Linked DNA regions of Homo sapiens: region 1 is linked to region 2. The links come from fine-mapping of genetic effects on plasma protein levels. Region 2 holds a variant in brackets. A gene starts in the other region. All regions are shown on their forward strands.

Region 1 (5,320 bases), not on the chromosome of region 2:
TTCCAGCCAGATGCCCACAATGGCCTCTCTACCCGTGTTCATACCATTCACAATCCATCCTCAACAAGTGGCCACTACATTCTTAAAAACAAGTCATGACAGCTCTCTGAGCTCTCTAGTAGCTTCCTCTTATACCTAAATTCCAACTTATGGTCTTCAGGGCTGCTTGACTCTCCAACCTCCTCATTCATTGCCTCACACTCCATATAGAGTGACTAAATAAGCCTTATACAAGCCAAGCTCCTTCTGACCTCAGGACCTTTGCATATTCAGCTCTTGCGACAAAGTGCTCTTCAAAGCACCCAGATTTCAACAGGGCTGGAAAATGCTCACCATTCAGGGCTCTGCTTGGTGTTGTCTGCTAAGGGAGGTGTTCTCTGACCCCCAGTACTTCAGTAGCTCCCCCACCACCGAGTCGCTTACTAGTTCATGAACACCTCTAGTTATTTGCAATTATTTGAAACAGTTCCTAGTTTCTTATGAACACCTCTTGTTTTCTGCAATTATTTGTCTGGATAATAAGTGTGCCTGTCATCTCCCATAGTGCAGGATTGTGAGTGTTTTTGCTCACTGTCTCCTTAGAGCCTAGAATAGTGCCTGCCCCATAATAGGGGCTCAATGAATTATGTTGAAGCAATGAGTGAATAAAACACAGCACAGACAGTGCCAAGTTTGAACCTTATCTCAGCCACCTGCTAGCTCTGGGACCCCGGACAAGCTCAGAGTCACACTGGGTTTTCAGGTCTCATTATCTTCATCTGTAAAATGGTGACAATAGTGCCACGAATAGTGCCATAAAGGCACTCTGAAAACACTACAGTGCAACATGACCACTGATGGATTATTATCCTTATTATCTCTGATGTTAGTGGAGTGTGGGGCAGGAGGGACTCCCTCCACCCGTCCCAGAGCCACTGCAGCCTGCTCACCTGGAGACACATCCAGCTGGAAGCCCATCAAGGGGTACAGGATCCCAGAGGTGTTGCGCATGCACCAGTATCGGCCTGAGTCCTGGAGCTTGAGGGCCACCATGGTGATGTTGACCACCTTGGCCTGGGCATCGTCCTGCAGCAAGTAGCGGGGCCCTTTCACCCAGACTCGGGCAAAGCCAGGCTCACACTTCTTCTTCCTGATTTTGCACCAAACCTTGCCCTCCACGCGGTTTTTGTAGCCCTTATAGGAGCACTGCACAGACAGAGTCTCCCCTTCAAGGAGCCTCACTTTTGTGTATACACTGTCAGCAGAGGGGCCTGTGGAGACAATACTTATTGAATAAGGTCTGGCAAGAGGAGAGGAAGAAGACATCATGAAAGTTGAAGATCATGGTGAAGGGTAGAGTGGATATTGTCCTGCTGTCACAGAACCCACAGATTGAGGGGGAAATACAGCCCCGCCTTCAGGGAGCTTGCCCCAATCTGAAGGGAGGTGAATGGGCCCTGAAAACAGCTAGCTTCCAGTATTACAGTGGAGACACAACCCCCGCTCTCAGGGAGCTTTCAGTCTGATGGAGGAGGCAGGTATATCCCTCAGTGAGTCCCCAGTCTAATGGAGGAAACGCAGCATTTACACTCGGAGCTCCATCAGACACAGCCCCTTTCCTCATGGTATTTTCTAGTCTGATGGGAAAGTGACAAGCTCTGTCTTCAGGGATTCCCAGGGAATTCATTTTTGTTTTGTTTTGTTTTGTTTTGTTTTGTTTTTGAGACGGAGTCTCGCTCTGTTGCCCAGGCTGGAGTGCAGTGGCACGATCTCAGCTCACTGTAACCTCCGCCTCCTGGGTTCAAACTATTCTCCTGCCTCAGCCTCCTGAGTAGCTGGGACTACAGGTGCCTGCCACCACGTCCGGCTAATTTTTTGTATTTTTAGTAGAGACGGGATTTCACCATGTTAGCCAGGATGGTCTCAATCTCTTGACTTCGTGATCCACCTGCCTCGGCCTCCCAAAGTGCTGGGATTGCAGGCGTGAGCCACTGTGCCCGGCATCCCAGGGAATTCTTGTGGGAAAAACCCAGGTCATGCCCTCAGTGAGACAGATGCAGAGACACAAACACAGGTCATTAAGTTGTGAAATTTCAGTGCCCAACTAACTAGGTAGATAAGAAAATCTAGTATTTGAAAATATGATTAACAGTTATTTATTTCACAAATAGGTTCACTTAGTCCTCTTTAAATAATAACTCTCCTTAGTTCATTCCATCTGGTGTTTAGTTTTAAAATATTCTAGTTACATAAAACCCATAGATCAAGCCTGTCTAAATATACATGTAAACAAACTCCCAATGGAGTGTGAACCACAGGATTCTACAATTATTCACTTTCCACCTGCAATATCTTTCTCTCTATGCTGAGGAGTAAGATGTGGTCCAAGCCTTCATAATCCACAGTCTGGTAGAGACAGAGCAGAACTGGGGTGTGCAGGGTGACTCAGGGGACAGAGAGAGGGAGAAAGCTGCCTTGGGCTCCCTCCACCCCTCTGCCTGCCTTAAGCTCAGCTGACTCTTCTGATAATTTCACCCCAGAGTCTTCCAAAAAAACCACATATAAAAAGACTCTCCCCCATAGTAGAGAACAGAGAGCACACATTTTGGAGTCAAAATAAACAAGGGTTGAAACCCTGTTTCTACCACTTAGTGGTGTGATTAGGTCACCTGTTTGATACAGAAATATCAAAACAGACACTTGACTGATACAGAAATATCTCTGTTTCTTTATCAGTCAAGTGAGAATAGCACCACACCCCTCACAGGTTGCTGTGAGAATTCTGCCCCAGGTCAGTGCTTTGCACACAGTGCATGCTCAACTCATGCTTCCTTTTCCCACATGCTGGGGCCTCCCAGTTCCCCCAATGGAACCCAGAGCTGTGACAGTCAAGGGCCCAGAATCCAGGACATCTGTCCCACCAGAATCCAGGATATCCGTCCCAAGTCCCAGCCAGCAGCCACTAGAGCTGAGGCTCTGTGTGAAGCAGCACCCTCTCTAAGCATCCCTCTGTCCCTTGCAAACTAAACAGAATGATCCAACTTCATTATTTGGTGGATGAGCCCAGGATTTCTTAGCACAAGAGAGACCCCTTTCTGCCCTGGCAGTGGGAAGCTGTTTCTCTACCCTCTGGGAGGTGCAGAGTTGGGTGACCTTGGGATGGGTCTCCAGGGCAATGTCTTCATGTGTGCCTACACCTCCCACCCCTCTCACAGGCAGTGGTGAGTTTTGCCAACCCCCACCATGCCCAGAACTGAACAGGAAGTGGTAACTTGGTTGCCATGGCAGCGAGAGGGGCAGGAATGGGTGAGGTTCCTCAAGGAGCATTGGTATCTGTGAGGTGGGAAAGGCATTCACACACTGGTCCCTTCAGGACAGAGGCAGGGACAGGATGTGGCATCAGCATTTCAAGAAAAATGTTCAAATTCAGTTCAAAACACACATGATGCAATGATTGCTGTCATAACTAAGCAGGGCTTCCTGACAGAGGCCAAGCAGAGAAAGCTATTTGTGTGAGGAAATTGAGGGCTCTGCTTTAAAGCCTGAGGAAGCCTAGCAGATAAAGGAGCCAATGCAGAGAGGGTCCAGAGCTTTATCTTGGCTTGGGAGGCCTGGGTTAGCTTCGCCTGGGGCCTGATATTAGGGTAAAGAGCTAAGTCAGCCCTAATCTCCTCCTTCCCCAACCCACAAAACACTAAACAAGAAAACTGCTGGTAAGGAGGGTAAGAAAAAGGCCCTGAGCTCCTGCCTCTGTACCCACTCCCTCCTCCACAAGTCAGCCCCTTCTCCCCTCACCTGAGACGCAACCCTGTGGCCACAGCAGCAGCAGCAGCAGGAAGGCTGGGGCCATGGTTCCATCCAGCTGGGCAGTGTCAGGCCTGGAGATCCAAGGTGAGGGCCCACCCGACACAGGATGTGCCACCTGGGCCTGCCAGGGAAGGACCCGGGGTTCTAAAAGTGAAGCTGCCCATTTAGGGAAGTGAGGCAGTGTGGGACCCACTGCCCCCAGCCAACCGCAGGGATTCATTGAGCCTATTATGAGGGCGGTGCTGGCAGCTGTTTCCGCCCTTTTCCTCGGAACTTCAGGCAGGTGTGGCTGCTCCACCCAGTCTGGGGCCCCAAGCCGGGAGGACTCACAGTCAGAGGGCTCCCCGCCCTCCCCAACCTCCCCCAGAAACTGGTCCCTAGGATCCAGCAAGGGGGCTGGGGTGAGGCTTCTGGAACGTCAGGTATAGACCTTCCTGGAATCTTCTGGGCTCAGAGACCCAGGGGTGCGGGCTCTTAGGCTGAGATGGAGCATCTCAGACCCTAGTTTCTTACATATATACATTCACAGGGAAGTTCTTATAAACTCTCATTCATTCATTCATTGCAGATTCTTTCTGTTCCTTCCTCTCTCTCTCTCCCAGGCTCCTGGCTGCTCAGAACAGTCACTTGTGTTCACTGTTGCAAATAACCTCTTACAGGCTCACTTGAAATCTTACTTTTGTCAAGCGGGAAAAATGCAAATTGTTAAGACTCAGGGCATAAATTTTGGGTTGAGGGAGGGGTTCCTGTACTCTCACACACAGGTGTGCATGCACATGCACTCACACTCACAGTCTCACTTTGTCTTTTATTCACTTTCACACACACACACACACGCCCATGCACACAGTCTCACACACACCCCAGCAGCCTCTCCTTTTCCCTATCCATACGTCTCCTCTCTCTGTCCCTCTCCCTGCCTCTCCTCCTGTCGACTCTACTCACCATCAGCTCCCTCTAGACTCCTAGTCCCTCGTGCAGGCTTCCTACAGCCTCCGCAGTACTTCCCCTCACCCACCTCATCTCAAGACCCCCTTCCTCCCCTGCCTCCAGCCTACGTCAGCACGCAGGCAAGTGCCCTCCACTTCCTCCTGCTCAATGCTATCTCGCCTGTACAGCCACCAGCTCCAGTGGAAATGACCCAGCACTAGGCCCAAGACCACACCCTTCACTTACCCCAAGGCCTAGAATCAGAAGCATCAATTTTTGATGTCCGGTACCTGTGTCATCTGCTCCTTCAGTGTGTGGGGACCCAGCTGGACTCCCGTGATTATGTATGCTCCCCCTACTCACTAGTGCCATGTTTCTACTCCTTAGATGGGACTGTCAAAAGGTAAACTGAGGCACAATAAAATTTTAAACAGATTATTTCAGCAAACAACAATTCATGAATCAGGCAGCTCCAAACAGAAGAGGTTGAGGAGCTCCACTGGGGGAATGCAAGGGGAAGACTCCTACAGGACAAGTAAACTGAAGAAAATATTTAATTAGTTATAGTTATATAGTTCCCTTATTTGGCCTATCCTGTTGGAAA
Region 2 (5,374 bases):
GAGGACCGCCAGGAGGCTCACCTGGGGGAGTCCCTGGTCATGGAGCTCCTCCCTCTACTTCCCTACTTCCTCAGGGATTCAGCCATAGAAAAGAATGAAGGACTGCTACAAGCCACAATGGGATGAGCCTCAAAACCACGATGCTAAGAGACAAAGCCAGTCACAAAGAAACACGTAGTGTCCCTACTTCCTCAGGGACAACCATTTAAGAGGTTGATTAGGTCGGGCATGGTGGCTTACCCCTGTAATCCCAGCACTTTAGGAGGCCAAGGTGAGCAGATCACGAGGTCAGGAGATCGAGAACATCCTGGCTAACACAGTGAAACCCCGTCTCTACTAAAAATACAAAAAATTAGCCGGGTGTGCTGGTGGGTGCCTGTAATCCCAGCTACTCGGGAGGCTGAGGCAGGAGAACGGCATGAACCCAGGAGGCGGAGCCTGCAGTGAGCCAAGATGGCACCATTGCACTCCAGCCTGGGCGACAGAGCGAGACTCCATCTCAAAAAAAAAAAAAAAAGAGGTTGATTAAGCCAACCCCAATATAAAGATCACATGATTCCACATAGTCAAAACATTGAAGAACCCAAATTTGTAACAAATTCTGTGGCAGTTTTAATGCTGAGCTGCTAGGGGCCAGGTGTAGTAGCTCATGGCTGTAATCCCAGCACTTTGGGAGGTTGAGGCAGGTGAATCACTTGAGGTCAGGAGTTCAAGATCAGCCTGGCCAACGTGGTGAAACCCTGTCTCTACTAAAAATACAAAAATCAGCTGGGCATGGTGGTGCACACTTGTAATCCTGGCTACTCGGGAGGCTGAGGCAGGAGAATCGCTTGAACCCGGGAGGCGGAGGTTGCAGTGAGCAGAGATTGCGCCACTGCACTCCAGCCTGGGTGACAGAGTGGGACTCTATCTCAATAAATAAATAAATAAATAAATAAATAAAGTCGAGCTGCTAGAGTAAATTACTGGACATTCTCAATGCTTATATGGAACATGTGGAAGTAACATTGTAGTTTATAAGCACTGTATTCTAAGTGGAAAATGCAATGTCTTAAATAAAACTATTTAAAATTGGCACCTCCCAAAAAAATAGCCAATCTGGGTGGCAGGCACCTGTATTCCAAGCTACTCAGGAGGCTGTGGTGGGAGAATGATTGCTTGAGCCCAGGAGGTTGAGGTTGCAGTGAGCCATGATTGCTCCACTGCACTCCAGCCTGGGTGATGGAGCGAGACCCCATCTTGAAATAAATACATAAATAAAGTGGACAATTCAGCAGCATTTAGTACACTCACAACATTATGAAGGTACCACCTCTATCAAGTTCCAAAACTTTTATTTTTCCTTTTTACTTTGATAATTGGAAGCATTGATCATTCCAAAACATTTTTATCACCCCAAAAGGAAAAGCCCTGTATCCATTAAGCAGTCACTCCCCATTGCCCCTCCCCCCAGCCCCTGGCAACCAGCCATCTGCTCTCTGTCTCTATGGGTTTCCCTATTCCGGACATTTCATATGAATGGAATCAACACTACGTGTTTCTTTGTGACTGGCTTTGTCTCTTAGCATCGTGGTTTTGAGGCTCATCCCATTGTGGCATGTATCAGTCCTTCTTCTTTTCTATGGCTGAATCATGTTCCCTTGTATGGATACCCTAATTTTTTTTTTTTTTTTGAGACAAGATCTCATTTTGTTCCCCAGGTTGGAGTGCAGTGGCACAATCATGGCACACTGCAGCCTCAACCTCCTGGACTCAAGCAATCCTCCCACCTCCGCTTCCTGAGTAGCTGGGACTACAGGTGCATGCCACCACTCCAGGCAATTTTTTTGTTTGTATTTTTTGTAGAGACAGGGTCTCACTATGTTGCCCAGGCTGGTCTCGAACTGAACTACTGACCTCAAGTGATCCACCCACCTTGGCCTCTCAAAGTGCTGGAATTACAGGTGTGAGCCACTGCAACTGGCCAGATATGCCACCTTTGGTTTATCCATCCATCCATCCATTGAGGACCGCAGGGTGTCTCCGTTTGGGCTACTGTGAACACCCAGGCATCTTTGTGGCTGGGAACAGGAGAGGTGTGGAGAGCAGACAGTGAGTCAGAAGAACTAAAAAGGGAAATTTGGGAACTAGAACTGGGCTTTGGCCACCGAGATCAAGTCCTGATTTTACCTCCAAACCGTGTCTTGAATCCATCACTTCTCCATCTCTGCCACCACTTCCCCATCCCAGGCCACCACTATCTCTCCCCAGGTCGGTTACTGCAGCCTCCCTTCCGGCCTCCCTTCTGCCACTCCCAACTCCCTCATCCCCAGGGTTCATTCTCCACTGAGCAGCCGAGGGATCCTCTTAGAACTTTCATGAAATCAAGTCATGGCACCCTCTTGCCCAAAGCCTTTCCATGGCTCCCCATGGCCTTGGGAGCAAGTCCAGACTCCATCCCATGGGTGACAAGGCCCTCCTTATCCTGGCTGCTGGCTACCCCTCAAGCCTCTTCACACATGGTTTACTCTCCTCACGCTTCGCTGCAGCTGCCTGGCCTCCCTCTCTTCCCAGAGTGCGCCAGGCTCCAGGCCCTTGCATGTGCTGGTCCCCTTCCCAGGAGGCTTCCTCCTTCACTCAGCCACCCCTCATCCTTTAAGTGTTCACTCAGCCATTGCCTCTTCCAGGAAGGTCTGTGACCCCAACCCTTCCCCTCCCGCTAAGTCAGAGGCCTTCGCTGCTTCCCATTAGCCATTCTTTCAACCAGTATTTACTGGGCACTGCTTTGTCCCAGGCACCAGGGATAGAAGTTAAAAAGACAGGCAATGGCCAGGCACAGTGGCTCACACCTGTAATCCCAGCACTTTGGGAGGCCAAAGCAGGCGGATCATTTGAGGTCAGAAGTTTGAGACCAGCCTGGCCAACATGGCGAAACCCCATCTCTACTAAAAATATAAAGGTAGCCGGGCATGGTGGTGCTTGCCTGTAATTCCGGGGTTCTCAGGAGGCTGAGGTGGAAGAATCACTTGAACCTAGGAGGCAGAGGTTGCAGTGAGCTGAGATCATGACACTCCACACCAGCCTGGGTGACAGAACAAGACTCTATCAAAA[A/AAATT]AATTAAACAATTAATTAAATGGTTAGTTTTGCAGGGCATGGTGGTTCACACCTGTACACTGGGCTTTTTTTTTTTTTTTTTTTGGAGTCCCACTATTCAGAGGCTGAGGCAGGAGGATCACTTGAGCCTGGGAGGCCGAGGCTACAGTGAGCCATGATCCTGCCACCACCACACTCCAGCCTAGGTGACAGAGCAAGACTCTGTCTCTAAATAAATAAATAAATAAATAAAATGGTTAGTTTTGCTGGGCGCAGTGGCTCACACCTGTAGTCCCAGCCTCTTGGGAGGCTAAGGCAGAAGAATCACTTGAGCCCAGGAGTTCAAGACAATCCTGGGCAACATAGCAAGATTCCATCTCTATGTAAAAAAAAAAAAAAATAGTTTTATGTTATAGGAACTTCACCTCATTTAACTTATTATTTTTTTAAAGACAGACAAGACAAGTGCCCCTGCCCTTCCTGACCAGAGGGGAAAATAAGTAAATAACATTCGTACAGTCCATGAATTGAAGTTAAGAGCCCAGGAGAAAAATAAGCAGGGCAAGAGGATATGAATTGTTCATGAGGATGGGTTGCAGGGCTTGTCATTTTACTAGGAGGGGACCGAGGAAGGCCTCCTTGAGAAGGCAGCCTTTGAGCAAAGACCTGAAGGAAATAAGGGCACAAACCATGCAGATGGCCAGGGAACAGCGTTGTTGGCAGAGGGAACAGCACATGCAGAGGCCCGCAGGCAGGAGGCCATGTGGCTGCAGCAGAGAGGAGGGGAGAGGAGAGATGACATCATGGAGGCCTGTGGGCTTTTCTCAGGAGGTTGGGAAGATGTGGCAGGACCCACAAAGGAAATGAGAAGATACAGCCAGTGACATAGGAGAAAAACCAGGAGAAGCCAATTGCAGGTCACGTATCTGGGCTTGATAACTATGGATGTACCCTTGGCGGGCTTCTCCCCACATTGGAAGGCAGGTCCAGGAAGGCAGGGGGTTTGGTCTGCCTTGTTCACCGCTGTGTCTCAGCACCTGGCAGTGCCCAGGACATAGCAGGTGCTTGGTGACGAGGATATGAGTCAGTGGCTGACCTGGTGTCCCCTGGCCCCGCTGTTTGGCATCCAGATCTCAGTCTCTGGACTGATGGCAGTGATGCCCCTCTTCACCTAGCCACCAGCAGGGGCAGATGGTGGTCCAGGTGGGATCTGAGGCGGAGCTTCCTTCCACCATGGCCACCCCACCCAAGAAGTGGGCTGAGCCAGCCACCCACAAGAGGGAACCGAAATCATCCTCCACCACAAACACGCTGGCCTGGCTCCACACTGGGCAGGACATGGAGGAAGGGGGAGCGATAGTGAGGGCCAGAGTCCCTCCACTTCAAGGGTCCCCTTCCCCTGGTATATACATGGGAAAAAGGAGACACCAGCCAAGGGCTGGGTTGCTGTGTGTGAGTGAATTTTGCTGAAGTCCCAAAGACCTGGAAGGTCCTGCCGGCTCATCCCCTGCCTCAAGTGCAGGGGTTTTTGTTGTTGTTGTTGTTTTAATTTTTTTTTATTTTTTTATTTTTTTGAGACAGAGTCTCACTCTGTCACCAAGCTGAAGTGCCGTGGCATGATCTCAGCTCACTGCAACCTCTTCCTCCCGGGTTCAAGTGATTCTCATGCCTCAGCCTCCCGAGTAGCTGGGATTACAGGTGTGCACCACATAGCCTGACTAATTTTTTTTGTATTTTTAGTAGAGACAAGGTTTCGCCATATTGCCCAAGTTGGTCTCAAACTCCTGAGCTCAGGCAATCTGCCCACCTCGGCCTCCCAAAGTGCTGGGATTACAGGTGTGAGCCACCACACCTGGCAAGTGCAGGATTTATGAGTCCTGCTTTAAAAGGTGGCACATGAGACATGGTGGCTCTCACCTGTAATCCCAGCAGTTTGGGAGGCTGAGGCGGGAGGAATGCTTCAGGCCAGGAATTCAAGACTAGCCAGGGCAATATAGCAAGACTCCCTCTCTACAAAAAATAAAAATAAAAATTAGCTGGCCGTGGTGGCATTCACCTGTACTCCCAGTTACTTGGGGGACTGAGGCAGGAAGATCACTCAAGCCTGGAAGGTCGAGGCTGCGGTGAGTGATCACGCCACTGCATTCCAGGCTGGGCGACAGAGCAAGACCCTGCCTCAAACAAACAAACAAAAAAAGCTGGCATTGGCAACTTCTCCCTTTATCCTTTTGTCCCTCCTTTAAGGGAGCCTCTCATTTCCCCCCAGACCCCTGCCACAGACACCCAAATTCCTGGACATTTTCTC

Alleles and levels. Positions count from the first base shown, and alleles are read on the strand shown. Strength reflects both the effect of a copy and how common the allele is.
As copies of A replace AAATT in region 2, the plasma level of the protein whose gene starts at base 3,970 in region 1 goes up (moderate association).

The links. PIP is the posterior inclusion probability: the model's chance that the variant is causal. Protein levels are from antibody-based Olink assays in UK Biobank. Linkage for the fine-mapping came from a reference panel and not from the study's own genotypes, which makes the PIPs less certain.
Region 1: it holds the start of TREML2, and the variant in region 2 is fine-mapped to the plasma level of the TREML2 protein (UK Biobank, PIP 0.95).

What each region holds. Positions count from the first base shown.
Region 1 is chr6:41,197,180-41,202,499 of GRCh38, forward strand. TREML2 (triggering receptor expressed on myeloid cells like 2) reads right to left here and starts at 3,970. Exons shown (of 5, transcript NM_024807.4): 1 at 3,775-3,970; 2 at 930-1,250. The coding sequence starts at 3,829. RefSeq lists an enhancer at 4,189-4,258.
Region 2 is chr12:111,385,583-111,390,956 of GRCh38, forward strand. All of the region lies in intron 2 of LINC02356 (long intergenic non-protein coding RNA 2356), which reads left to right. It also overlaps the pseudogene HSPA8P14. Among named protein-coding and RNA genes, the nearest start is that of SH2B3, 18 kb to the right of the region's middle. The variant A/AAATT (reference allele first, on the strand shown) is at 3,091.